Linked DNA regions of Homo sapiens. The protein of the gene in region 1 purifies or fractionates together with the protein of each later gene. This does not show direct contact. Each region holds a gene or a part of one and is shown on either strand. Other genes may lie near its edges. The genes, in order: BRSK1, NINL, AKAP10, CPVL, HADHA, ACO1 and NT5DC2.

Region 1 (3,500 bases):
AAAAAGAAATCGGAGAAAGTCTTTTCTTTTTCTTTTTTCTTTTGAGACAAGGTCTCATTCTGTCACTCAGGCTGGAGTGCAGTGGCGCGATCACGGCTCACTGCAGCCTCAACCTCCTGGAATCAGGTGATCCTCCCACGTCAGACTCTGGAGTAGCTGGGACTACAGGTGCATGCCACCGTGCTGGGCTTTTTTTTTTTTTTTAAATTGTGTGTGTGTGTGTGTGTGTGTGTGTGTGTGTGTGTGTGTATAAATTTTTTTGTTTGTTTTGTAGAGATGAGGTCCATTATGTTGCTCAGGCTGGTCTCAAACTCCTGGGCTCAAGCAATCCTCCCACCTCGGCTTCCCAAAGTGCTGGGATTACAGGAGTCAGCCATCATGCCTGGCCTCAGAAAAAGTCTTAAAATTGAGAAAGGTCTGCATATTAGCCTTTTTTTTTTTTTTTTTTGAGACAGAGTCTCGCTCTGTCGCTCAGGCTGGAGTGCAGTGGCACAATCTTGGCTCACTGCAACCTCTGCCTCCTGAGTTCAAGCGATTCTCCTGCCTCAGCCTCCTGAGTAGCTGGGATTACAGGAGCCCACCACCACGCGAGGCTTATTTTGGTATTTTTAGTAGAGACAGGTTTCACCATGTTGGCCAGGCTGGTCTTGAACTTCTGACCTGCTCGTCTCAGCCTCCCAAAGTGCTGGGATTACAGGCGTGAGCCACCGCGCCCAGCCTGCATGTTAGTCTTTAAGGGGGACAGAAAAATAAAGAGTCATAATTGGTTTTGGTGACGGAACACCCACAGTTCCACAGCCGTTTGGTTTAGAAATCTTTGGGGCAAGCCCCTCTCCCACCTGTGACATATTAATATTGGTGACAAAGAGATCGGCGATATCCCTCCCTATCCAAATGCTCACTATCAGGATGGAGGGACCAAACAGAAAGCAGAACTGGAAGCAAGGTATTTTAGTGGTTTTCCTTTCTTGTGCCAAGCCTCGACTGGTCATGGCTGCCTGGAGTTCAAGTTCCTGAGGCTGCCACTGAGCTTAGCAGGAATAAGCACTGCCATCAATTGGTAATGTCTGCTCTGGGCAGACTGATATTAGACAGCAGTGTGCTGTGTCTTCACCCTTTGGCTCTACCATCTTAAAGTAATAGGAAGAGCTGGGCTCTCTCCTCTGAAGTTGGGAGGCCTGGGTTGGGCTGCAGCTCTGCGACAGTGTATTGTGTGACTCTGGCCAAGTCCATTGACCTCCCTATGACTCAGTTTTCTCCTCCGTAAAATGGGTGATTACTAACACCTCAGTAGGCTGCTTGGAAGCTTCAAGGAGATAATGCATTCATTATTTACACTGTAAATGCCAGGGAAATGCTGATGAGAGTGGGGAAATAGAGGATGGGCTTGTGGGGCGGTCTGTGTGGGCAGGAGGAGCACAGAGAGTCGGCACCAGCTGAACACCATTTCCTCCTCCTGCTGCTGCACTCCTGGGCCCCTACACTGTCTCAGCTGTCGTGAACAGTCCCAGCACTGGGCTGCAGGCAGCCTAGCCAAGAGACTCACCCGAGATGAGAGTGAAGGTGACGGAGTAGATGCCACCACCTCCGCTGCCGTCCCGTCGCGGGGAGGGCTCTGGACCCTCAGAGGAGCTGATGTCCACCTGGAAGCGGACGGGCTTTTGGAAGACGGAGGGGCCGCCACTGGCCTTGTACTCGGCCCTGAAGCTGGTCTGTGACAGCACACTGTGACTCAGGCTGGGGATCTGAGCGAGGTAGGAACACAGGAAGGGGTGAGCCCAGGAAATGGATACCCAGCCCCACGACCAGCTCTGGCCAAGGAACTACGAGTCCCATGAGCCACTGGAGGGAAAGAAGGACAGGAAATGCATTGGGAGGCCCCACTGCCTGCAAGGACTTGTAGCTTTCTCTATCCTATCAGCGAGTAAGGGAGGAATGGTTGGACATCCCCCTAACATCATGAGGACTCTGATAGCTAGGTGACAGCCTCAGACTCCAAGACCACATGAAACACTGCTTGCTCCCTTTACAAATGCTTCCCATAGCCATATCTGTCACAGAAACTCTAAGTCCCATCCACCCGTAGGCATAAAACCACAGACCAGCAATGGGGCAGCCTTAACATTGCCTGGGAAGTTTCTTCGGCTAGTTTCAAACCTCGCAGTAGGGGAATGGGAACTCACCAATCCTTGAGGACATTGCAATTCAGGATCCTATTTCCCCAATTCCAGGCCTCTGGCCACGATAAATCTTTCCTGCCTACCGACTTCTAACCAACTCTGGCCATAAAACTACAAATCCCATGAGCCCCAGGAGGAAGCCAGGCCTATGCTAAGGTGGTTAGCCCCAGGGGCTGCTGGGACTTGTAGTTCTGCGGGGGCCAGGCTCGATGGGGACCCAGGCCCCTCACCGACAGAAAGGCATGGACGATGTCTGCTTTGATGCTGCTGAGAGGTTTGTCCTTTAGCACGAGGAATATTTGTTCTTCTTTGTCCAAGGAGATGAAGTTCCCGAACCAGGAGCGTTTTGCCAGCCTGAGTGGGAGGGGGTGGTTGGAGGAGGGTTAGGAAGGCGCCGAGGGCATGAATCCCCTGCATCCCCACTCTTTCCTTCCCTGTGAGACTCACTCCGGGGAGGACTCTGGCGTCAAGCTGGACATCTCCTCAGCGGTAGGGACTGGTAGGGGGAAGGCAGAGAACGTGGTCAACACCTGTGCATCATCCCAGTTGCCAGCACACAGGCCTGCACTCGCCCCCTCCCAGGGTTCCAGAGCCTTGGGTTGCAGCCTCGGCCAAGCCATCCCTCCTGGGCGGGGCTCACAAACCACGGGCCAATGGGAGGTAATCCAGAGCCCCAAAGGCGCGTGCCCTTCAATCGGGGTCCTCCTCCAGAGCTAGAGGCCCCACCTCTCTCCCCAACAGGTGCACCTCTGCTTCAAACCCCCTCTTCTCTAGAACGTGGGAATCCAGGCCCCCAGTCCCTTCCTCTCTAGACACGCCAGACGGACATCCCTGGAACCAGATTTTTAGCCCCAACCTCTCCCCACATTAGGACTCGGCAGTTCATGCCCCCATACCCTGCATCTTGCGCCGGTGAAAGCGAGGGGAGCCCAGGAAGCTGTTGCGGATGGAGTTGAGACGACTCCTCCAGGCGGCTCCCCCGACGCCACCGCCGGGGCTGGGGGGTGGTGTTGTCCCCGGGGTCCCGGTGGGACTGGCCCGGGGCGTGTGCAGAGGCGAGTGCAAGGGGGTCCCGCCAGAGGAGCGCGGGGAGCCTGGGGGGCCGGGCAGGGGTGTGGAGCGGGCACTGGGGGGCGGGGGCTGCTCCCCGGCGCCCCCACCCCTGGGGCCCCGAGAAGGCAGCGTCTGCGTTTTGGAAGTCGGGGAGCCCCCGCCTCGAGCCTCATCTCCAGCCCCCGGCTCCGGTGAAAAGGAAAAGACCGGACTCTGCAGAGGACAGGAGACTGAGATAAGCGAGTGGACTACAACTCCCAGGAGGCT
Region 2 (3,500 bases), on another chromosome or scaffold:
TAATGTCACATAGTCTCTGTTAGAGGCCAGTATTGTGCCATCCACAGTAGGTATCTGACTTTTGTGCTCTGGTTACTTCTGAGACCTGTATCTTTAGTGGTTTTTATTTGCTGTGTGCATTTCTTTCTTTTTAACTTTTTATTTATTTATTTATTTATTTTTTTGAGACGGAGTCTCACTCTGTTGCCCAGACTGGAGTGCAGTGGTACAACCTCAGCTCACTGCAACCTTTGCCTCCCAAGTTCAAGCAATTGTCCTGCATCAGCCTCCCAAGTAGCTGGGATTACATGTGCCCACCACCATGCCCAGCTGATGTGTGTGTGTGTGTGTGTGTGTGTGTGTGTGTGTGTGTGTGTATGTGTGTATTTTTACTACAGACGGGGTTTCACCATGTTGGCCAGGCTGGTCTTGAACTCCTGGCCTCAAGTGATTTGCCTGCCTCATCCTCACAAAGTGCTGGGATTACATAAGGCCTGAGCCACCAGGCCTGGCCACTTTGTTTTATTTTATTTTATTTTATTTTATTTTATTTTATTTATTTTATTATTTTATTTTATATTTTATTTTATTTTATTCATTGTAGAGATAGTCTCTCACTATTTTGCCCAGGCTGGTCTCAAACTCCTGGCCTCAAGCGATCCTTCTGCCTCAGCCTCCCAAAGTGGATCCTCCTTGAAATTACAGGTGTGAGCCACCATGCCCAGCCTCTTTTTAACTTTTTATTAAAGTGTGATACACATAAGAAAATGTATATATTTGTACAATTAGGAGAATTGTCAACAAATTGAACACGTCTGTGTTACCAGCGCCCAGAACAAGAGATGGAATTCACCAGAGTCCCCGGGGTAACCACTTCTTACAGCATAGATTCAGTTTGCTTGTTTTTGTACTTTATGGAGAGGAATCATGCAGTGTGTACTCTTCTGTGTCTGACTTTCTTGGCTCAACCTGGTTGTGCGATTGATCTGTGTTGTTGCTGTAGTTCATACATTTGCATTGCTGTGTGGTATTCTGTTGTGTGAACATACCACAGTTTATTCTTTTCTCCTGTTGATGGGCATTTGGGTAGTTCCTAGTTTTTGGCTCTCACAAATGGAACTGCACTGAACGTTCTTGCATTTGTCTTTTGGAGCATTATGTTGGGCTGTACCTAGAAATGGGATTGTTATGTTGTGGGTATAGGCATAGTTTTCTTTTTGTTCATCCTACTTAGAAAACATTGTCCCAGCCAGGCACAGTGGCTCACACCTATAATCCCAGGACTCTGGGAGCCCAGGAGTTCAAGATCAGTCTGGGCAACATAAGGAGACTGTTTTCTACAAAAACTTAAGAAAAATTAGTCACACATGGTGGCACGCACCTTTGGTCCCAGCTATTTGGGAGGCTAGATGGGAGGATCACTTGAGCCTGGGAGGTTGAGGCTGCAGTGAGCTGAGATTGCACCACTGCACTCCAGCCTGGGCGGCAGAGCAAAAGGGAAAAAAAAAAAAAAAAGAAATATTTTCCCTGTTGAATGTATGGATTGCATTGGTGTCTCATGAAAATCTCTCAGCCATTACTATTAAAATATTGCCTCTCCGGAGGTTGCAGTGAGCCAAGATCGCGCCATTGCACTCCAGCCAGGGCAACAAGAGCAAAACTCCGTCTCAAAAACAAAAAAAAAGTATATATATATATATATATATATATATATATATATATATATATCCTCTCCTCCCACTATTTTCTTCAATTAGATATGTGACTGTTAGAGCATTTCACTTTATGTCTCAACCTCTCTTTTATATTTTCCATCTTCTGTCTGTATCACATTTGGGGTATTTTTTACATACCTATGTGTTCCAGGTCAGTATCTCTTTCTTTCAGCTCTGTGTAATCTGCTATTTAAACCATCCCATGAGTTTTTATTTTGACATTGACTTTTTGTTCATTTCTAAAAATTCTGTTTGGTCCTGTCTGATCATTGTCAATAGTTTCTTGTTGCTTGTTCATTGTTTGTTGCTGTCTTTTATTTATGTAAACATTTCATAACACTTATTTTTAGTTTGTGTCTAATAAGTCCAATACCTGCAGTTTCTAGAGGATTGAATTCTGGCTTCTGGCTTCTGCTGTCATTTATGGGTGGCTTTGCTCCATGTATGTTATGGTGATCTTTGATTGTGAGCTCATATTTGCTTGATGTTAATCTCTGGGAATATAAAGAGCCTTATATGGGATGCTATTGCTTTTGCAGAGAAGTGAGAAGGTGCTAATCTGGGACTGTCTGAACCTCCTTCCAGGGCCCTGTCTGGTGCAGGTGTCCACAGTGCAGCTTCTCCATTCTGCTAATAGCAGTGCTGACACATAGGCATTGGTTGCAAGGTCCCCCCAGCTTTGTGTTGCATAGTGCTCACGCGTTGGTTTCAGCTTCCAGGATTTTGTTTTGTTTGGAGATTCTTGCAGGTTTTCTTTTCTTTCCATGAGGACAGTCACAGAGGTTGCGATCAGCTTTGCGCAGGATCTAGTTGTTTGGTGGTCATGTGGGGGATGGGGTAGGGCACCCCTCAGCTTTCGGCCTTGCATCAACTTGTTCTCCATTCTAGAGCCAGAGTGATAGTTTAAAAACACAGAACTCTCCTGCTTGAAACCCTTTGCTGCCTTTAATTCCAGTGACTATTTATTTTTGTCTTTAGTTCCTCATGAGATAAAATGAAGGCATATGAAGAAGATACTTATGTTTACTATTATAAGTATAATACATAAAGCGGGCTGGGCGTGGTGGCTCACATCTGTGATCCCAGCACTTTGGGAGGCCTAGGTGAGAGGATCACCAGGAATTCGAGACCAGCCTGGGCAACCTATCGAGACCCCATCTCCACCACAACAAAAATTATCCAGGCGTGGTGGCGCATGCCTACTGTAGTCCCAGCTCCTGGGCCTGGGAGTTCAAGGCTGCAGTGAGCCATGATCGTGCCACAGTACTCCAGCCTGGGTGACAGAATGAGACCCCATCTCAAAGAAAAAACAAAAAAATACATGAAGTGAACATGGTGAGATCATGTGGCTTTCAGTATTTTCAGACTGAAAAAATAAGAAGCTAGTACCATATGGAGACCTATTTGGGGAATACACGTTAGCCTTACCAGTCAGTATTAAGAATGCATTCTCTGGGTAGCAAGTATGGGTCTTAAGCTACTTCACTGGTGATCTTTTTTGTTTTTTCACAGACAAGGTCTCACTATGTTGCCCAGGAGGGTCTCAAACTCCTGGGCTCAAGCAGTCTTCCTGCCTCAGCCTCCCCAGTAGCTGGGATTACAGATGCATGCCGCCACTCCTGGCTCCCATTAGTGATCTTCATTGGTAAATTGCCATCTTCATCTATCAAATCAATGGCATTACCCAAGCAGGGACTCCCTGAGTTGTCAGAGAACAAAGACGGCCCAGGCAGACTTGGTTCACATAGTGGCTGTCTATCCCTGCCTTTTCCCACTTTGAGATTCACCTAGCAGAGGTTTCCCATA
Region 3 (3,500 bases), on another chromosome or scaffold:
CCATGTTGGCCAGGCTGGTCTTGAACTCCTGACCTCAAGTGTTCCACCCAACTTGGCCTCCCAAAGTGCTAGGATTACAGGCGTGAGCCACCGTGCTCAGCCATTTGCGTGATTTTTAAAGATGTGCAGAATAATGCCATTAAAAAAAATACACATACATGTATATATATACACGTTTGGCTGGGTGTGGTGGCTCACACCTGTAATCCCAGCACTTTGGGAGGCTGAGGCAGGAGGATCACTTGAGCCCAGGTGTACAAGACTAGCCTGGGCGAGATAGCAAGACCCCATCTCAACAACAGAAAGGATAATTAGGTATGGTGGCATGAGAGGATCACTTGAGCCCAGGAGTTCGAGTGTTATCAGGCCACTGCACTCTAGCCTGGACAACAAAGCAAGACCGTGTCTCAAAAAAATAAAAATAAAAAGTATTTGTATGTGGTCATAGTCAAAAAACGTACATGGAAGGAAAATGTCTTTATTTATTTATTTATTTTTTTTTTTTTAAGACAGAGTCTTGCTCTGTCACCCAGGCTGGGGTACAGTGGTGTAATCTCAGCTCACCGCAATCTCGGCCTCCCGGGTTCAAGCGATTCTTCTGCCTCAGCCTTCTAAGTAGCTGGGACTACAGGTACCCGCCACCACACCCTGCTAATTCTTGTGTTTTCAGTAGAGACAGGGTTTCACCATGTTGGCAAGGCTGGTCTCGAACTCCTGACCTTAAGTGAGCCACCCGCCTTGGCCTCCCAAAGTCCTGGGATTACAGGTGTGAGCCACTGCGCTTGGCCAGGAAATATCTAATTTAGTAAGTATTTATATCTGGGAAAGGAAGGGTCAGGTGGTGATTCATAGGAACTCTAAAGTCTATGTATAATACTTAGGGGGACAGAAGGAAATAAAGCAAAATGCTGATATTTGATTGTTGAGTTGTGTATATGTTAGAAGTATAACATAGGAGATCTGATTGATAGTAGGAGAATGTTTTTAGGTGGTAAAAGTGGAACCGTGGTGGTTTGTTTTGGCAGTAGAATCAGTTGGTCATAGTTTGTATGTGGAAGGTAATAAACAGACCATGTTAAGGATGACTTCCGGAATTTTGGTCTGAGTAGTGGGTGGATGACAGTGTCATTCATGAGGGAAGATGAAGACTGAGGTAGGAACAGGTTTGGGAGAAGATGACATGTTCCCTTTTAGACAAGTGGAATTATGGAAGATGGCAGGTAGGTGGTTAGCTATATGAATTTGAGATAAAAGATTTAGGATGGAGATATAAATTTAGGAGTAACAGCGTATCTATGGTATTGTAAGCCTTAAGAATGGGTAGGATCAGCCAGGAAATACAGATGTATATGCAGAAGAGAGGAGTCAAGGAAGCCAAGACAAGTTAATGTTTAAAGTGAGTGATGTAGTCCATGGGCAGATGCTGCTGAGAGGGCTGCAAACACCAGTGACCCTACAACATTTTTAAATGTCGTCTTCCTGACAGCAGTGATCAGTACCTGCAACGATCTTATTTATTTTTTTCATGTTAGTCTCCACACACTTGAATGTAGACTTTTTGAAGGCAAAATCATTGCCTTTTCTGAGCTGGGAGCATGTCTGGCACATACCAAGCACTCAACAGTTGATGTATTGACTTCATCCAGATACTCTGAGGGCGAGTTATTTCCTGCTACTAGCCTTTCACCTTTCAATGTTTAAGAGCACAAATACAGAGATGGGCACGTTTTGGCATTTCTTATTTTGATAACCTTTTCCTGGTAAGATTTTTTAATGTTGAAAAAAAAAAACAAGAAAAGAGGGTTAAAAATAGTCTTATGTCAGATCCTGTGATAGAATTCACACTTGGCTTAAGCTGCTGGGCACCTTCCTATCTTGGATGTCATATTAGCTTATCTACAGCAGAATTTTTACTGTTTTATGTAGTAAGGAAGCAATTATATGATTATTTTACAGACAAATTATTCTTTATCTTTTATTTTTTTAGACGGAGTCTCTCTTTGTCTCCCAGGCTGGAGTACAGTGTCGCGATCTCGGCTCACTGCAACCTCCGCCTCCTGGGTTCAAGCAATTCTCTGCCTCAGCCTCCCAAGTAGCTGGGCTTACAGGTGTCCGCCACCACACCCAGCTCATTGTTTTGTATTTTTAGTAGAGATGGGGTTTCACCATGTTGGCCAGGCTGGTCTTGAGCTACTGACCTCAGGTGATCCACCCGCCTTGGCATCCCAAAGTGCTGGAATTACAGGCGTGAGCCACCGTGCCTGGCCCAGACAAATTATTATACTCTGAGTGTTAGAGGCTTAGGATGTTTTCACTTGATGCTATGGGAGGAATAAGTAATAAGATATGATACACAACCAAAGACCTTTCTTCACTATGCTTCTAGTAGCTAGTACTATGGATGACACATGGTAATAATATTGGTTAGCATTTGTCCTCAATTTACTGTGCTAGTTACTCTTCTAAGCCCCTTACAGGTATATATTTTTTTTCATCAATAATCCTCTAAGGTAGTTTTTATTATTGACCTAATTTTATAAATCAAGAAAATTAAGACCCAGAGAAGTAAGTAACTTGTCCAAGATCACATGGCTTATAAGTGGTAGAGCCAGAATTTGACCCCAGATGTTGTGACTACATTGTCTCTCCATAAGCAGGTTCAACTCTTTTGACTGGATGCTGTTCCAAGGTCACTTCCTTAGAGAAGCCTTTGCTGACAACTACCCTCCTGTGCCCTCCTCCAAGGCTGTCCATTGTTCTAGAACTTTGAATACTCATCTTAGAATAAAGCTGGTCTAATTTTTACAGTGTTATAGAATGGATCTCTGACTGCAAAAGTTGGTCATAATTATCTTTTTATGTTCTAGTGAAAGGCAAAGAACAAGAGAAGACCTCAGATGTGAAGTCCATTAAAGGTAAGTTCTGCCCTTGGCAGTCCACTGCATTAAAAAGTGATGTGCTTTGCATTTGTGAGTTCTTTAATCCTGTTATACTCTCTCTTTTGGCATTAATCATTTCTGCCTTATTTTATAATTACTTATGATTTTGATTTATTTCCCTCTTTAACCTGTATAATGCTTTAACATCTAGCATATAATAAGTAGGCTTTTTTTTTTTTTTTTTTTTTGGAGACGGAGTCTTGCTCTGTTACCCAGGCTGGAGTGCAGTGGCGCGATCTTGGCTCACTGCAAGCTCTGTCTCCCGGGTTCACACCATTCTCCTGCCTCAGCCTCCCCAGCAGCTGGGACTACAGGTGCACGGCGCCACGCCTGGCTAATTTTTTGTATTTTTTAGTAGAGACAGAGTTTCACCATGTTAGCCAGTATGGTCTCGATCTCCTGACCTTGTGATCCGCCCGCCTCGGCCTCCCAAAGTGCTGGGATTACAAGCGTGAGCCACCGCACCCGGCCGTAAGTAGGCTTTTTTTACCTTAATTTTATTTTTTTGAGATGGAGTCTTGCTCTTATCCCCAGGCTGGAGTGCAGTGGTGCCATCTCGGC
Region 4 (3,500 bases), on another chromosome or scaffold:
GGTTGAAATGTGTTTCAGTGACTGCAAAGGAAGACTCCAACAAATCCTGAAACCCAGGGGAATATAAATGTCAGAATCTCAAGCCTAAAATGATAAAGCCTGTTTGACGCTCTGATCCTTTAAAATGATTTAATTAATCAAAGAGTAGTAACTCAGAGCTGGAGAGTACTCTGGAGATAGGTCATCTACTGTCCCTATGCATTTACATGCACACACACACACACACACACACACACACACACACACACACACACACACACACACACATTTACTGGTGAGTGGAGAGGATGCCGAGCCCCAGGGGATAGCAATGAATTGCCGAAGGATACACAAATAGATTGTGGCAGGCTGAGGACTGGAATTGCTTCCCCCATTTCCACCACAGTATTTATCCTATGGTAATTTTCAGGCATTCTGTAAAAATCCTGGATCGTCTTAGATATTCTGCAAGATGTGAAATGACTGATCCTCTGTCCAGTATTACCTCCCTTTCCATGATGATTTTCTGAATCACAAAGTTCTTAGTTTCACAGGTCTTGACCACCCATGTTATTTTTTGACAACAACTGACTTTTTCTTTTTTTTTTTTTTTTTTTTGAGACGGAGTCTCGCTCTCTTGCCCAGGCTGGAGTGCAGTGGCAAGATCTCAGCTCACTGCAACCTCCACCTCCCAGGTTCAAGCCATTCTCCTGCCTCAGCCTCCCGAGTAGCTGGGATTACAGGCACTCGCCACCACGAATGGCTAATTTTTCTTATTTTTAGTAGAGACGGGTTTTCACCGTGTTGGCTGGGCTGGTCTCAAACTCCGGACCTCAAGTGATCCGCCCGCCTCGGCCTTCCAAAGTGCTGGGATTACAGCTGTGAGCCACCATGCCTGGCCAACAAATGACTTTTAACTCTTTCTAAAAGCAAAGTTATTCTTCAAGGTTGACTTTATATTCCCACTGGTGTTGAAGATAATTTCTAACAATGAGTTCCAAAAATGATGTGTGCATTCAGAATGACCCTGGCCTATGGTGCCCCATCTGGGTGAACAAATTAGAAAAAGACACCTCGGCCGGGCGCAGTGGCTCACGCCTGTAATCCCAGCACTTTGGGAGGCCGAGGCGGGCGGATCACGAGGTCAGGAGATCGAGACCACGGTGAAACCCCGTCTCTACTAAAAATACAAAAAAGTTAGCCGGGCGTAGTGGCGGGCGCCTGTAGTCCCAGCTACTCGGGAGGCTGAGGCAGGAGAATGGCGTGAACCCAGGAGGCGGAGCTTGCAGTGAGCCAAGATCGCGCCACTGCACTCCAGCCTGGGTGACAGAGCGAGACTCCATCTCAAAAAAAAAAAAAACAAAGAAAAAAAAAAAGAAAAAGACACCTCCTCTGTGGTGATGCAGTCCTGTGGGTTCAGGACGGGGCAGGCAGATGCCTCCATTGTGTGAGGATAAGAGGTGGCCACTTCTCCAGATGCAGCCCTGAGCCAGGCTCTCCAGCTCAGCGAGCAGAACTTTGGCTGGTTCCCTGTCCCTTTGCACCCCTTAGCCACAGGCATCGCATGGAGCTGCACAACCAGATGTGGGGCCCTGAGCAATGGTAGCATTGGTAGAGAATACTTACTACCACCTCCACCCACACCGCCTTCTATGGTGATAACCCTTTTCATTCTTGGCCTCTAGCCCCATGGCAATAGGAACTTGAATAAGTTCTTTCATGTTTGAAAAAGAATATGAATACAGGCCGGGGGCGGTGGCTTACACCTGTAATCCCAGCACTTTAGGAGGCCGAGGTGGGCAGATCACAAGGTCAGGAGTTCGAGACCAGCCTGATCAACATGGTGAAACCCCGTCTCTATTAAAAATACACACACACAAAAAAAAATTAGCTGGGCGTGGTGGCAGGCGCCTTTAATCTCAGGTACTCGGGAGGCTGAGGCAGGAGAATTGCTTGAATCCGGGAGGCAGAAGTTGCAGTGAGCTGAGATCTCACCACTGCACTCCAGCCTGAGTGACAGTGCGAGACTCCATCTCAAAAAAAAAAAAAAAGAATATGAATATAATAATTAGTCTATTTTCTCAAGCATTGAAGCATGGCCAGAAGGAATTGGCAAGTAGGAAGCATTGCAGGCTGACTGCTGGGAGCCAGTGTGTGCGTGGTTGAGTGTGCAGGCTCAGGAGTCGTGGCCTAATCATCTCATCTCTGACATTATTAGTGAGGTGTCCTCGGCAAGTTGCTTAAACTCATGTGTCTCAGTTTTCTCACCCATAAAATTAGAATAATAATACCTTATCTGATAAGAGACCTAAATTTGTACTTGATAGATTGTTTTTAACATGTGCTGACTTCATTTCTTTGAATTCTTTTGTAAGAACTCCTTACAACTTAATATCATCATCAACAACCCCCCTCCATGTCTTCAACCTCTTCTGTGACTATTTTCTTCTCTTCATCTTCTTGCTTTGCCAGAAACCTGGCTCTCCCCTGATGCTGCAGTCCCTGTGGTCCTCTTGAGTGGGGGCTGTTCTCTCTCTTAGCTTGTCTGTATCACTTGGTTCATAGGTGGAGTAGGTGTCTTCCTTGCTCATCATGTGACTTTCAGATCATGTTCCCTGCCTCCTCCTAAAGCATTGAGCTTTGACTCTCCTGTCCTCAGACAGGGCCTCTGACCACTTCCAACTGTGTCTGCCTACCAACCCCTGGTTACTCCCTCTCATTTGAATAGCTGAGCTCCTTCCTCCCTGTCACTCTCTGCAGCATTATTCTTGTCATAATTCCTGGTAACTGCAGGATCCACATTGACGATCCTTTTGGGACCTGGTCCTTGGTGCCTCAGCCTCCTCTTTTTCAATGATCTTGTTCTCCTCCTCATCTTAGCTGCTGATTCTCATACCCTAAAATGCTGGCAGCTGATCCACAATCACACATTCAAACATCTTTCTCCAACTACCACCTCCTGTCCGAATCTCTTCTGCTAATGTACTGATCTTACAGCCCTGCAACCTCACTACCTTTCAATCCATTGATCCTCCTGCCTCTCCACTATCTCTAACCCCCTCAAGTCTCCATTTCTCTAATTACCTGTCTTCAACCCAGGGTCAGTCATTCCATACATTTCCAAGCCCAAAGCTCTTTTGCATTTCTTCCAACTCCTTTGGCTGAACCACAGCCCTGGCTCAATCTGCCTCTCTGTCAGGCTGTGCTTGTCTCCACACAGCTGACAATGGCTGGAGGAAAGCATGCAACCATGCTGACTGCTCTCCCGCTCAGCTGGTGACTGGGTTTTTTAATGTCAGCCCAAAGATAACTTCCACCAGCTCCAGGAACCTGCATCTGCACCATATCCTGCGTCTTCTCTCCATGTCATCTGGTGAGCAGTTCATGATCCATGTTAAGGCACCCTTCCCACAAGGCTTACTCCCATAGGCAAGGCCTTTGAGCTTACTGTGTCCTCTGCCTGGAACCTTCCTTCCCCTAGATGTCTGCATGGCTCTATTCCTCTCATCCAATATGTCTTT
Region 5 (3,500 bases), on another chromosome or scaffold:
GTCACCCAGCCTGGAGTGCAATGGTGCGCTCTTGGCTCACTGCAACCTCCGCCTCCCGGGTTCAAGTGATTCTCCTGTCTCAGCCTCCAGAGTAGCTGGGATTACAGGCTCCTGCCACCACGCCCAGCTAACTTTTTTTTTGTTTTTTTTTTTTTGTTGTTGTTGTTGTATTTTTAGTAGAGACGGGGTTTCGCCATGTCAGCCAGGCTGGTCTCTAACTCCCGACCTCAGGTGATCCAGCCACCTCAGCCTCCCAAAGTGCTGGGATTACAGGCGTGAGCCACCGCGCCCGGCCATAGATTGTGTATTTTTAAATTTGATTCTCACTTCCTTAATCTCGTCGCTTCTCCCAGTGTTGAATCTTGAGAAAAGCTGTTGATTATTACAACCAAAGTAATGTTTTCAAATTTGAAATTTATGTTAGCATAATCCAGCTCTCTTCGCTGACTGTAGTCTTATGAGGTTTTGTAGTTATTCTTGGGTTACATTACAAAGATGATTAAAAAGTGGGGCAAAGGTTTCTCTCTACTTTGCTGGCACAGTAGATGTAGGCTAAAGTTCACTCAGCTGCCATAGGGTAAGCTCTGCAGTTAGGTAGTGAGTAAGGCTAGACTCCAAAAGCAAAGCTACCTTGCAGTGTGACTTGATTTGGTTGACTCTGGTTTGGAATTATTTTCGAAGTATGTTCATGTATATACTGGTTTTCTATTTGTTTCTATTTGTCTTGATCTTGGAGAGGTTTTGTGTATGAGTGTGTGGGCAGCATAGGTAGGTTAGTGGACAGGAGTTAAAATGGTTTAAACTGTTGGCTAATGACCACTAACCTGTTATCTCAAATATTTGATCTTTAAAACTGCAACCCAGTGGGGCATAGTGGCACATGCCTGTAATCCTAGCTACTCCGGAAGATTACTTGAGCCCAGGAGTTCAAGACCAGCCTGGGCAACATAGGGAGACCTCGTCTCAAAGAAAAAAAATGTTTTTGAAATATTGCAACCCATGCTCACTCTATTTCCTTTTTTTGCTTAGGTGCTTATTTTCTAACATATTTGTGTTTCTTGGTTTTTCCCTCTCAACCTGCATTCCCAATCAGTTCATTCCCACTCTAATCCACTTTACCCTGTTTTGCTAGAATTACCTATCCCCTTCTTCCCTTCCCACTGGAATTTCTACTTTGCAGGAAAACTTTTTCTATGCCAGGCCTATTTTCACTTTTCATTTATCTTCACTGAGTAGGAACTGATTCTTCCCAGATATCATATCCCCTGCTGACCTGGAATGTAAGCTCCACCAAGACAGGGATTTTTGTCTTTTTTGTTCACCCTGAATGTCCTGCTGTACTCCAAGTGCCTAGAACAGTGAATGGCACATGGAGGTCACAATATATGTTTTTGTTGAATGAATAACAGATTATGTTGGAAAAGATTACAATGTGGTTGGTGAAACACCTGCTACAGATGCAGCAGTTAGAGGACAGAACATTAAATAATAAAATAAAAATGCAGGCAAGGAAAGGAAGGATCACTGTAGACAGAATCCGAAGATGAGGTTTTGTGGAAAAGAGTGGAGTCATGATGCAAATATAAAGAAGGAAGAGTGGTAAATACAGATGACACAGATTTCAAATGATGGAAAAGCAAAGCAGGAAACATACTATTAGTCAAGTAGAGGCACTGGGGATTGAGGAGATGGCTGGCTTCTCCCATCTTAAAACACTGAAGTTCACTTGTAAGAGACTTGTTCACAGTCACACAGCTAGTAAATAAACCTGATGGTTGAACACAAGTCCTTTGCCTTTGCACTAAGTCGGCTGGCTTGGATTGCTTAAAGAAGAAATGCAGGCAGAACCTGAAATCACCCCATTCTGCTTCTGGTGCTAACCACAGTTTTCTTTCTTTTTTTTTTTTTAATGTGTCACCTTGCCTTTCCAACCAGTATAAAGCTGCTATTTTTTGTGCCTTCTCTTCCCTTTCCATAAGGAACTGGGGGATAAAGAGAAAATACGGAGGCAGCAAGAGCCTTGGCAACCTACTGATGATCCTCCCCTATTCCACTCCACCTTCACTGGGTTCTCCAGTCAGTAGTTCCCATGTGCCTCTTACATTGCTATCTCTTTGGTTCTCTTTGCTTCCCTCTTCCCTTTTGTGATTACACTGGGCCCACCTGGATAATCCATGATAAACTTTCTTTATTAAGGCCAACTGATTAGCAACTTTAATCCCCCCTTTGCCGTGTAACCTAACATATTCACAGGTTCTGGGGATGTATATCCCTTTGTGGGGGCCAGTCTTCCTCTTTTAGTATCCAAATAATCATCTGACCTAACAACTGAAATGGAAAAAATATGGCAGTAGTCATATGGCCTAGAATACATTGTACAGATTTGGGGTTTTTGTTGTTGTTATTATTGTAAATTACAGCTTTGTTATATATAAAAGGTACTACAGAAATTGTTTCGCAAATTAATTTTGAAATGTCTTTTCTTACAGGTTATATATGCCGCAATTTTACAGGGTCTTCTGCTTTGCTGAGTAAGTTTAATTTCTTTTTAATGTGTATGCTTACATTGCTTTTTGGATTTATGTTGCAATAAATATGTTTACAAATAAATCTTTCTTTTCTTTTTAGCCAGAACCCATATTAACTATGGAGTCAAAGGGGATGTGGCAGTTGTTCGAATTAACTCTCCCAATTCAAAGGTATCTCATTTAATTTGCAGTTTTTTTCTGCTAACCGCATTATGAATCTAGTCCTGAATGGGAAAGATGTATCCCATATTTCCCCAAATCTACCAATCTGGCAGTAATCTTACATGAATTTACAGTTTTGACAGTTATGTTAAACTTTGACAGATTGCCAAGGGAGCCAGTTTTCTAAAGCAGAGGTTCTTGCGTAAGAATTCCTCTTGTTGACCTTAGGTGCCACCAGCCTCCTGGTTATAGTGTAGAATGAGGAGGTGACTTATTAGAGAAGAACCAGAGTACAAGCTTTGTTTATAAGACTCAAAATTTGCCTACCCATCTTAAATATGAGGTTGTTAATCCATTTTCTTCATTACTTGCCTGACATAAGTCACTATTCATAGTAAGTTGGCTGAGTGAAATGTGGATACTTGGCTCTTAAGCTTCCTGAGGGATCTGAATGACTCAATGCAATTCACATATTGGAAATCAAGTTCTGTTCGAATTGAAACTTCTTTTGTTTTTGGCAGCTTCAATAAAGTGTGTAACAGTAATCCATTCTTTTGCCAAGAAGAGCTTTATTGTGAGAGTCCATGCTTTTCCCCCATCTAAATTTGGTGTATTCTTACTTTAAAAATCTTGTAGCCAGGCTGGGCACTGTGGCTCACACCTATAATCCCAACACTGGATGGCCGAGGCAGGAGGATCACTTCAGCCCAGGAGTTTGAGACCACCCTGGGCAACATAGCAAGACCTTGTCTCTATAAAAAATAAAAAATAGTTGGGTATGGTGATGTTCACCTGTAGTGCTAGCTACTC
Region 6 (3,500 bases), on another chromosome or scaffold:
TATCTACACAATAAATAGTATCCAAAGCAAAGTTTTTAAAATCGAATGCACACTGCATAATAGTCTCTCTTGAGAATTAACACAGAAAATAAGTAGAGGAAAGCAAAGGAAGCTGGATTTCTGGGAAAGCCTACATTCTTGTGTCAGACTTTGGAAGAAAAATAAAGTGTTACCACAGACTTTGTTCTCCGTGAAACCCCTGAGCAGCAGGATTGAGTTCTGACGTGAATGCTGGGAGGTGTTTCTCAGTGAGGGCACAGGGCACTGGCTGATAAAACCTGGGGCCACTGGCCTGTTTCGCAATTCTGGTTGAGTTGTTAATATTTACATATGTGGTTTCCCTACTATAAGGTCTCTTTAGTTTCCAAGTTTTTAGTCATCCCCAAAGCTCCTCTTATATCCATCCACAGACCAGACAGTGTCAGCAGTTCCTTTCTATGAAGCAGACACGGGCATTAGGAAAGCCTTCTTTGCCTGAGTCCGTGTATTGCCACCTAAGCTTTCCTTGTCTGGTCTGGAGCAAACCAGTCTTCTGTAGACAAGTTACCAGCTTGTCTGTGGCTTTTTGTCCCCTCATGTCCCCACCCCCACTGCTCATGTTTTTGCTACTTCTGTGATACTTCCTAAGACAGAGCACCCAGTGTTCCAGTAGCAGTCTCTGTATCTGCCAAAGTCCAGCAGATCCTCCACTTCAAGATATATCTGAACACTCGATTTTTACTTCTTGGCTGACCGTTCCTTGCCAGCCAGCACACAGCTGATATAGTTTCAGAAAGGGCTCCTTCAATGATGATTTTCATCCAAATAAAACATAATTAGAAAGATGATTTTCCCTCTAAAAAAAAAATTAAAAACTCATTTTGTAATATATTCCTAAATGGTTTTACATTTATCTCTTTAAAAAAAAAGTAAGCAAATCTCTTTCTTCATTTCCTTGCCTAGCTTTGAGTTTACTGCATATATCTAAATGACCGTTGGCCAGGGAGCCTTTAGATTTCTGTTTGGCAGCAGAAACAGCAGATAGCGCCAACATGAAGGGAGCGTGGTCAGGTGGTGGCAGGAAATGCAGACTGAAGAAAATCAGGCTCTTTTCTGAAGTGTGCCTGGCACCTAGAGCAGGCAGCCTCCCACACTGCATCTGTGTTTACCATTTCACAGGATTGTTAGCAAAGAAAGCTGTGGATGCTGGCCTGAACGTGATGCCTTACATCAAAACTAGCCTGTCTCCTGGGAGTGGCGTGGTCACCTACTACCTACAAGAAAGCGGAGTCATGCCTTATCTGTCTCAGCTTGGGTGAGGGAGAGTTTTCTTTTGCACCATTGCTTTTGTTGAATTGTATCCCTCATGTATCTTGCTGTGTCACCTTGTAACAGATGTGAGATTATCTGATGATATCTAATTGCATAGTCGTTTATCAGTTGGTAGTTAGACTTAAACCCTTACATTCCATCTAAAGAGAGCCCTCTTGCCCTCTAGGGCACCTACCATGAATGGAGTTTGCAGGACTGGAAGTTGCTTTGGTTGAGTCAGTGAATGAGTGGAGAGTGAATGTGAAGGCCTAGGACATTACCACACACTACTGTTGACTTTATAAACACTGGACACTTAGGCCACACTAACTTAATAAAAAAAAGTTTCTTTCTTCAATAATGTAAACCGTAGCTTACTTTTATTTTACAAACTTTTAAGTTTATTGAAACTCTTGACTCTTAAAACACTTAGCTTAAAACAAACATATTGTATAGCTGTTCCAAAATATTTTCTTTATATCTTTATTTCATAAGTTTTTTCCTATTTTTGAAGTTTTTATTTTTTTACTTTTTAAACTTTTTTGTTAAAAACCAAGACAGGCTGGACCCAGTAGCTCACACCTGTAATATCAGTGCTTTGGGAGGCCAGGGCAAGAGGATTGCTTCAAGCCAGGAGTTTGAAACTAGCCAGGGCAACATAGTGGGACCCCTGTTTCTACAAAAAAAAAAAATGTAAAACAATTAGCCAGGCATGGTGGTGCATGCCTGTAGTCCCAGCTTCTCGGGAGGCTGAGGCTGCAGGATGGCTTGAGCCCAGGAGTTTGAGGTTGCAGTGAGCTATGATCACGCCACTGTACTCCAGTTTGGGTGACAGCAAGACCCTGTCTCAAAAAAAAAAAAAAAAAACCTAAGAGATAAACACACACTTTAGGCCTACACCGGGTCAGGATTGTCAGTATTACTGTCTTCTACCTCCACATCTGTCCCACTGGAAGGTCTTCAGGGGCAATAACATCCATGGAGCTGTCATCTCCTGTGATAATAATGCCTCCTGGAATACTTCCTGAAGAACCTTCCTGAGGCTGTTCTACACTTAACTGGTTTGCTTTTTTTTTTAATAAACAAAAAGAGTACACTCTAAAAGAACAATAAAAAGTCAGCATGGCTGGGCGCGGTGGCTCATGCCTGTAATCCCAGCACTTTGGGAGGCTGAGGCAGGCAGATCACGAGATCATGAGATCGAGACCATCCTGGCTAACACGGTGAAACCCCGTCTCTACTGAAAATACAAAAAAACAAAATTAGCCGGGCGTGGTGGCGGGCACCTGTAATCCCAGCTACTTGGGGGGCTGAGGCAGGAGAATGGCATGAACCTGGGAGGTGGAGCTTGCAGTGAGCAGAGATAGCGCCACTGCACTCCAGCCTGGGCAACAGAGCGAGACTCCGTCTCAAAAAAAAAAAAGTCAGCGTGAGTTTGTTTATACCAGCATCATCATAAACAAGAAATGCCTTGCACTGTGACATCACGATGGCTACAACATCACTAGGTGATAGGAATTTTTCAGCTATATACCACATATACATTTGGGTATATGTGGTCTATCACTAACAGAAACATTGTGCAGTGCATGAATGTATTCGTTGCCAAATACGCTTTCTCCAATTTCCATATTATTCCTGACTTATGACATATATTTTATTCATGTGCCTCATAAAATTCAAATCTCCTTAGGATTATACAATAATAGTAGTTAATGAAGATATGGCATATATGATTTCAACTTTTTTAAATTGTTGCTCATTCAATTTGATTCCTTTTTATAAGTTAAAAATATGAATAGTATTCTTATGTTATATATCAGAATGCTCTCAAGAATGAAACTTTTAGAAATAGCACTATACTGAACTTAGTTCATGCACTGCAATTCCTTTTTGAACAGTGGTCTCTGGAAACTGTGGCCAGCAGAAGGGCTCACTGAAAGTTATTCTTTTTTTGTGTGTGTGTGCTTCTCTCTTGGTGTCTAGGTTTGACGTGGTGGGCTATGGCTGCATGACCTGCATTGGCAACAGTGGGCCTTTACCTGAACCTGTGGTAGAAGCCATCACACAGGTAATTGCAGAGGTCCCTGCAGGTCTTCAGAGCAGTTGTTTCTTTTCATGTAATGTGACAAAAATGCTGATATTTTCAAGAAGGTCCATGGAAGCAGGGGATGTGGTTTAGAGTATGATCTTTTGAGTTTAGTTAAAAT
Region 7 (4,171 bases), on another chromosome or scaffold:
TGGTGATATGGACACAAAATATACAAAAGCAGACTGGAGAGAGCAAGCAGGGCCCCAGAAAGGGTCATAGGGCCCGCAGTGAGCAGCCTGAGCTGCCGCCTGTACAACCGGCTTTGGAGGGCCAGCCCGGAAGCCTCTTTCTCCTCCGGGTAGACTCCGCCCAAGCATGCACACACACAGGCTTGATGCTCGCTCCCGTTTCTACAGGAGGTTTTGACGGCTGGATGCTGCAGGGCATCCCCTCGCCTGGAGGAGGTTCACTTGTGGCCAGGTTCCCAGCACACCCACTTGCTCACTGGGGCCCTGGGGACACCGCCACACTCGAGCCCATCCTACGGCCTCAATCCTTACCAGTCCCCAGGCCATGGACTGCCACACTGTAGGTCTTCAATCAAGGTTCAGTGGAGTTTCGAATGTACACACACCCTGAAAGACAGCGCGGCCACCTCAGAAAACAACGCGCGCCCAGCTGGCTCCCCTCCGACAGGGCCCACGGCTACTGGGTCGGCCTCCTCCGGACCCTGAGCACAGCCTGGTATGCGTGCGGGCTCGGAATACGGATCTGAGCAGAAGAAATGCGAGTGGAGAGCGGTTCTGCGCAGGAAAGAGGAATTTTGTTGGAAAGCCTGTCGACGTTGCTAGAAAAGACCACAGCATCTCACGAGGGGCGTGCGCCGGGAAACCGGGAGTTGACGGGTCAGTGCGGCCAGTTGCCGAGGTCCGAACCAAGCGGGCGCAGTGACCGTGGCCCACAACCCTGCAGCGCACGGCCCAGTCACCTGGTTAGCGGACGTCGGCTGCCCTGCAGGCCCCTCGGCCTCCCCCAGCGTGGGCCTGGCACCGGGAAGCGCGGGAAGGGCTCTTTATTTGTTAGACCAGTGAGTGGACTGGCCCGGGCTCTGGTCAGTGGGCAGTCAGTCCGAGCCCAGAGACCGGGGACCAGGACCCCGGGAAAGGAGAGCACCAGGACTAGGGGGAGGAGCGGAGGATCTGGGGTCAGAAGCATCCAGAGGCGCAGGGTAGGGCGGGCGGACCCGGGAGCGGAGAGGGCGGCAGAGGACCCGGGGGCCCGGGGGGTACCCGTCGCGCTCCGGCTGTCTCCTCTCGGCGCCTCGGCCGTCCGGAGCCTCTCAGGGACGGCCGCTCTTAGGCCCGCTGACTTCCAGGGCTGGGGCCAGGGAAAGGCGCCGCCATCGCCGGCGTGACGGCCGAAGGGGGGCGCAGAGTCCTCCCGGACCGCGCCGGAGACTGGCTGGGGGAGGGGGCTGGGGAGCCCTCCCCGCCCCGCCCCGCCCCGCCGGGTCCGGGGCCTCCCGCCCCCCGGGCCGAGGGGCGCGCCCATTGGCAGGCCGGGCTCCGCGCGCCGCACCCATTGGCCGGCCGCCGTGAGGAGCACGAGGCCACCGTGGCGGGCGCGCAGTCGGAGGGCGGCGGGCGGCGGGCGGCGGGCTGGCCGAGGGCAGCGCGGGCGGCGGGCGGCGCGCGGTGGGCATGGCGGGTGCGGGGCTGCGGGCGGCCGCTCGGCGCTGGCTGCTGTGCGGAGGCCACGGCGGGCCGCGAGCCGCCTCGTCCTCGCCCTCCTGCCCTGGGTGCGGCCCCCCGGGTCCCGGCGCCCACTGCCCCGGCGTCCCGCGCTCCGCGCCCGCCCAGGCACCCACCAGCGGCGCCGACCTCAGCGCGCACCTATGGGCTCGCTACCAGGACATGCGGAGACTGGTGCACGGTGGGTGAGCCGGGGCGGGACGTGCGCCGGGGTGTCTTCCGCGTGGACTGATGGACGGACCGAGCCCCAGGGTGCCGCTCCTCCGGGGAAACACCCAGTGGGGCTCGCCAGGGCCCCGGAGCGCAAGGGCCGGGCGGCTTTTCGCGAGAAGCTCCGGCCGTTCATCCCGGGGGCCTCTGGGGCGCCCCGACGCCCGGGGGCGGGCGGGAGGTTTGTTCCCCGGCTCGGTCTGCAGGAGCTCGGGGCTCCTCGAGCGGCTGCCGGAGTGCTGGGCCCCCGCCGACTTCCTTCGGGGTCCCGCCTGCCGTGAAGCCGCGGTGGAAACGCCCCCAACCCCTTGTTCTCGGCCAACCCTTAGTTGGGGCGGGAGAGTGCTGTGGACAAAGCCAGCGAGCGGCGCCGGGCGGAACGGGCTCCTAGGGACGGCCGGACCAAAGGGGACACCGGTTGGACTTCCCAGACACACCTCGATGTCGCCCTGGAGGTCCGGCCCCCTCTCAGCCCGGGCAGCGAAGGCTGGGAGAAGCCAAGTCACCCCCGCCCCCTGGAGCCCAGACTAGGGCTGCAAAGGGCACTTAACCTCCCTGTCCCTGCTCTCTCCCTCTGAGAAATGGCGTGAGGAGGCTGAGGCCCCTTCTTGGAGGGGGCCGGCTGGGGCGCACTAGTGAGGCCCCAGAGCTGAGAGTGCTGGACATCTGCCTGCTTGTCTCCGTGGGTCTAGTGGGGCCCTGCTTCTGCAGCAGACAGATATGGTTTGGGTCGTGACCCTATCACTGACCAGTTGGGTGGTCCCCCAGCAAGTCTCACCCTCTCTCAAGCATGAAACGCAGTCCTGGGGCCTCTCTGTCCCAGGGTTGGGTGATGACTGGAACCAGGCCAAGCAGGGCAGGAGAGCTTCCGGAGGAACCCCCAGGGGTGACGTGGCTTTTGTTGTCTGATAAAACAAAGTAGCCCTGTCTGGAAGATTCTAACTGGCTAGACAGGGGTTTTCACTCCGGCTTTGTGGGGTGGCGGAGAATCACTTCTTGACCAGTAAAGGCAGGATGGTAAAGGCCCCTGAGGAATGGTCATTTTGAAGCCTTGGGCATCTGTCCACCCTCGAGGTCCCAGGTTGAGTTTGTGTCTGTGGAGGGGCGGCCCAGCGTTATTTAAGAAGTCTTTGCTCTGGGCCCGGAGAAGACCCTCAGAGTATCCTGAGAAGCCTGCCTTGGAGGTTTCAGGGAGGACTACGGGGATCTACTGGACATTGTCCTCCTGGGCCTGCCTGCATCTTTGGAGCCTCACAGCCCTCTAAGCTCCTCTTGTCATACAAGGAGCAAAGTCATTCCCACCAAGATCCCATGGTGAGCACCAGCAGGAGCCAGCTTCACACCTCTGGGCGCCGAGGTCCGCTTTGGGCTAATGCCCACGGGCTGAGAGCAGTGCAACAGGTCCCTCAGTCCCCCAGCCCCCACCCACCTGGCCTCAGTGTGGTGACATTGGGAGGCTAGGCTGAGAGGCAGAGTGATTAATGCAGGTGGGGTGACTTGAATGGTGATCTCAACCCCGGTGCCTGTTACTGGGTGGTTTGGAGCAAGTGACTTCACCTCCCTGAGCCCCAGTTTCTTCCTCCGGACGATGGGGGAATAAGTGGGACTGCCTCACAGGATGGGAGTGAGGATTGAACAAGACAAGCCTCTAAGGCATCCACAAGTGTCACGGCTGCTAGGGAGCAGTTGGCCCTGGGACCTGGCACCATGGGCAGGTGTGGGAGCTAGGGCTGAGGAGAAAGGAGGGCAATTGCTGGACATGCTGAGTGGGACACACCCTCAGCTGCCCCACCCCCACCCCCCACCCACACCACCTATGGAAGGGAACAGGCTTCTGTCGCCCCAGAGCCAAGGTTCTTCTAGTCTAGAAATCAGGCCAGGCCACCAGGCCCTGTGGCTGTTTCCACATCCTGCTTTGTTCCTGGGAGGACTGTCTGCCCCTGGGCCCCTGGGAACATCCTTAGGGGCAGAGGTGAAGGCCTGGACCTAACCAGGACTCTGTGCCAGCAAGGGGCTGCACTGCCGAGCAGACCCTCCCAGGTCTTCTGCACCAAGAGTCACAGTCACAGTTGGTATCCGGGAACTCAGGGCCATGGGAAGGGCAAGGCCCAGGGTCCTAGTGACACACCAGAACCCTGGGCCTTGAGGGGTGGCTCAGAAGCAGCTCCCTAGAGCGTTGCAGTCAACTGTCTCACTTGCATCCAAGTGAAGACTCCTGTCTACACCCACAGATCTTCGGAGCAGCCGCTCTGTGCTGGCCTGGGGAACCAGCCACACCTGATCCCCCACCCACACCCTGAACTTGGCTCCAAAGGAAAGGGGTGGGAATGGAGCCCTGTGTCCCCAGAGTGCCTCTGAGGCAAGTGCTCTGGGCACGGAGCACATCAGCGAGATGTCTGCCTCTTGAGTGCAGCAGCTG

What was found.
Region 2: the proteins of BRSK1 (region 1) and NINL purify together in Homo sapiens (affinity purification with mass spectrometry; one large-scale study listed by BioGRID and IntAct). This does not show direct contact.
Region 3: the proteins of BRSK1 (region 1) and AKAP10 purify together in Homo sapiens (tandem affinity purification; one large-scale study listed by IntAct). This does not show direct contact.
Region 4: the proteins of BRSK1 (region 1) and CPVL purify together in Homo sapiens (affinity purification with mass spectrometry; one large-scale study listed by BioGRID and IntAct). This does not show direct contact.
Region 5: the proteins of BRSK1 (region 1) and HADHA purify together in Homo sapiens (affinity purification with mass spectrometry; one large-scale study listed by BioGRID and IntAct). This does not show direct contact.
Region 6: the proteins of BRSK1 (region 1) and ACO1 purify together in Homo sapiens (affinity purification with mass spectrometry; one large-scale study listed by BioGRID and IntAct). This does not show direct contact.
Region 7: the proteins of BRSK1 (region 1) and NT5DC2 purify together in Homo sapiens (affinity purification with mass spectrometry; one large-scale study listed by BioGRID and IntAct). This does not show direct contact.

The regions. Positions count from the first base shown.
Region 1 is NC_000019.10:55,304,497-55,307,996, reverse strand, and holds part of BRSK1 (serine/threonine-protein kinase BRSK1), read right to left. Parts: intron 3,447-3,500; coding exon 3,077-3,446; intron 2,677-3,076; coding exon 2,628-2,676; intron 2,535-2,627; coding exon 2,411-2,534; intron 1,746-2,410; coding exon 1,547-1,745; intron 1-1,546. UniProt on the Homo sapiens protein: Serine/threonine-protein kinase that plays a key role in polarization of neurons and centrosome duplication. Phosphorylates CDC25B, CDC25C, MAPT/TAU, RIMS1, TUBG1, TUBG2 and WEE1.
Region 2 is NC_000020.11:25,470,532-25,474,031, reverse strand, and holds part of NINL (ninein-like protein), read left to right. Parts: intron 1-3,500. UniProt on the Homo sapiens protein: Involved in the microtubule organization in interphase cells. Overexpression induces the fragmentation of the Golgi, and causes lysosomes to disperse toward the cell periphery; it also interferes with mitotic spindle assembly.
Region 3 is NC_000017.11:19,967,829-19,971,328, reverse strand, and holds part of AKAP10 (A-kinase anchor protein 10, mitochondrial isoform 1 precursor), read left to right. Parts: intron 1-2,867; coding exon 2,868-2,915; intron 2,916-3,500. UniProt on the Homo sapiens protein: Differentially targeted protein that binds to type I and II regulatory subunits of protein kinase A and anchors them to the mitochondria or the plasma membrane.
Region 4 is NC_000007.14:29,066,538-29,070,037, reverse strand, and holds part of CPVL (probable serine carboxypeptidase CPVL isoform b precursor), read left to right. Parts: intron 1-3,500. UniProt on the Homo sapiens protein: May be involved in the digestion of phagocytosed particles in the lysosome, participation in an inflammatory protease cascade, and trimming of peptides for antigen presentation.
Region 5 is NC_000002.12:26,238,133-26,241,632, reverse strand, and holds part of HADHA (trifunctional enzyme subunit alpha, mitochondrial precursor), read left to right. Parts: intron 1-2,489; coding exon 2,490-2,531; intron 2,532-2,628; coding exon 2,629-2,699; intron 2,700-3,500. UniProt on the Homo sapiens protein: Mitochondrial trifunctional enzyme catalyzes the last three of the four reactions of the mitochondrial beta-oxidation pathway.
Region 6 is NC_000009.12:32,426,143-32,429,642, forward strand, and holds part of ACO1 (cytoplasmic aconitate hydratase), read left to right. Parts: intron 1-1,158; coding exon 1,159-1,294; intron 1,295-3,276; coding exon 3,277-3,361; intron 3,362-3,500. UniProt on the Homo sapiens protein: Bifunctional iron sensor that switches between 2 activities depending on iron availability. Iron deprivation, promotes its mRNA binding activity through which it regulates the expression of genes involved in iron uptake, sequestration and utilization.
Region 7 is NC_000003.12:52,531,058-52,535,228, reverse strand, and holds the start of NT5DC2 (5'-nucleotidase domain-containing protein 2), read left to right. Parts: upstream 1-1,371; 5' UTR 1,372-1,491; coding exon 1,492-1,723; intron 1,724-4,171. UniProt on the Homo sapiens protein: Promotes dephosphorylation of tyrosine 3-monooxygenase TH which decreases TH catalytic activity and leads to reduced synthesis of catecholamines including dopamine, noradrenaline and adrenaline.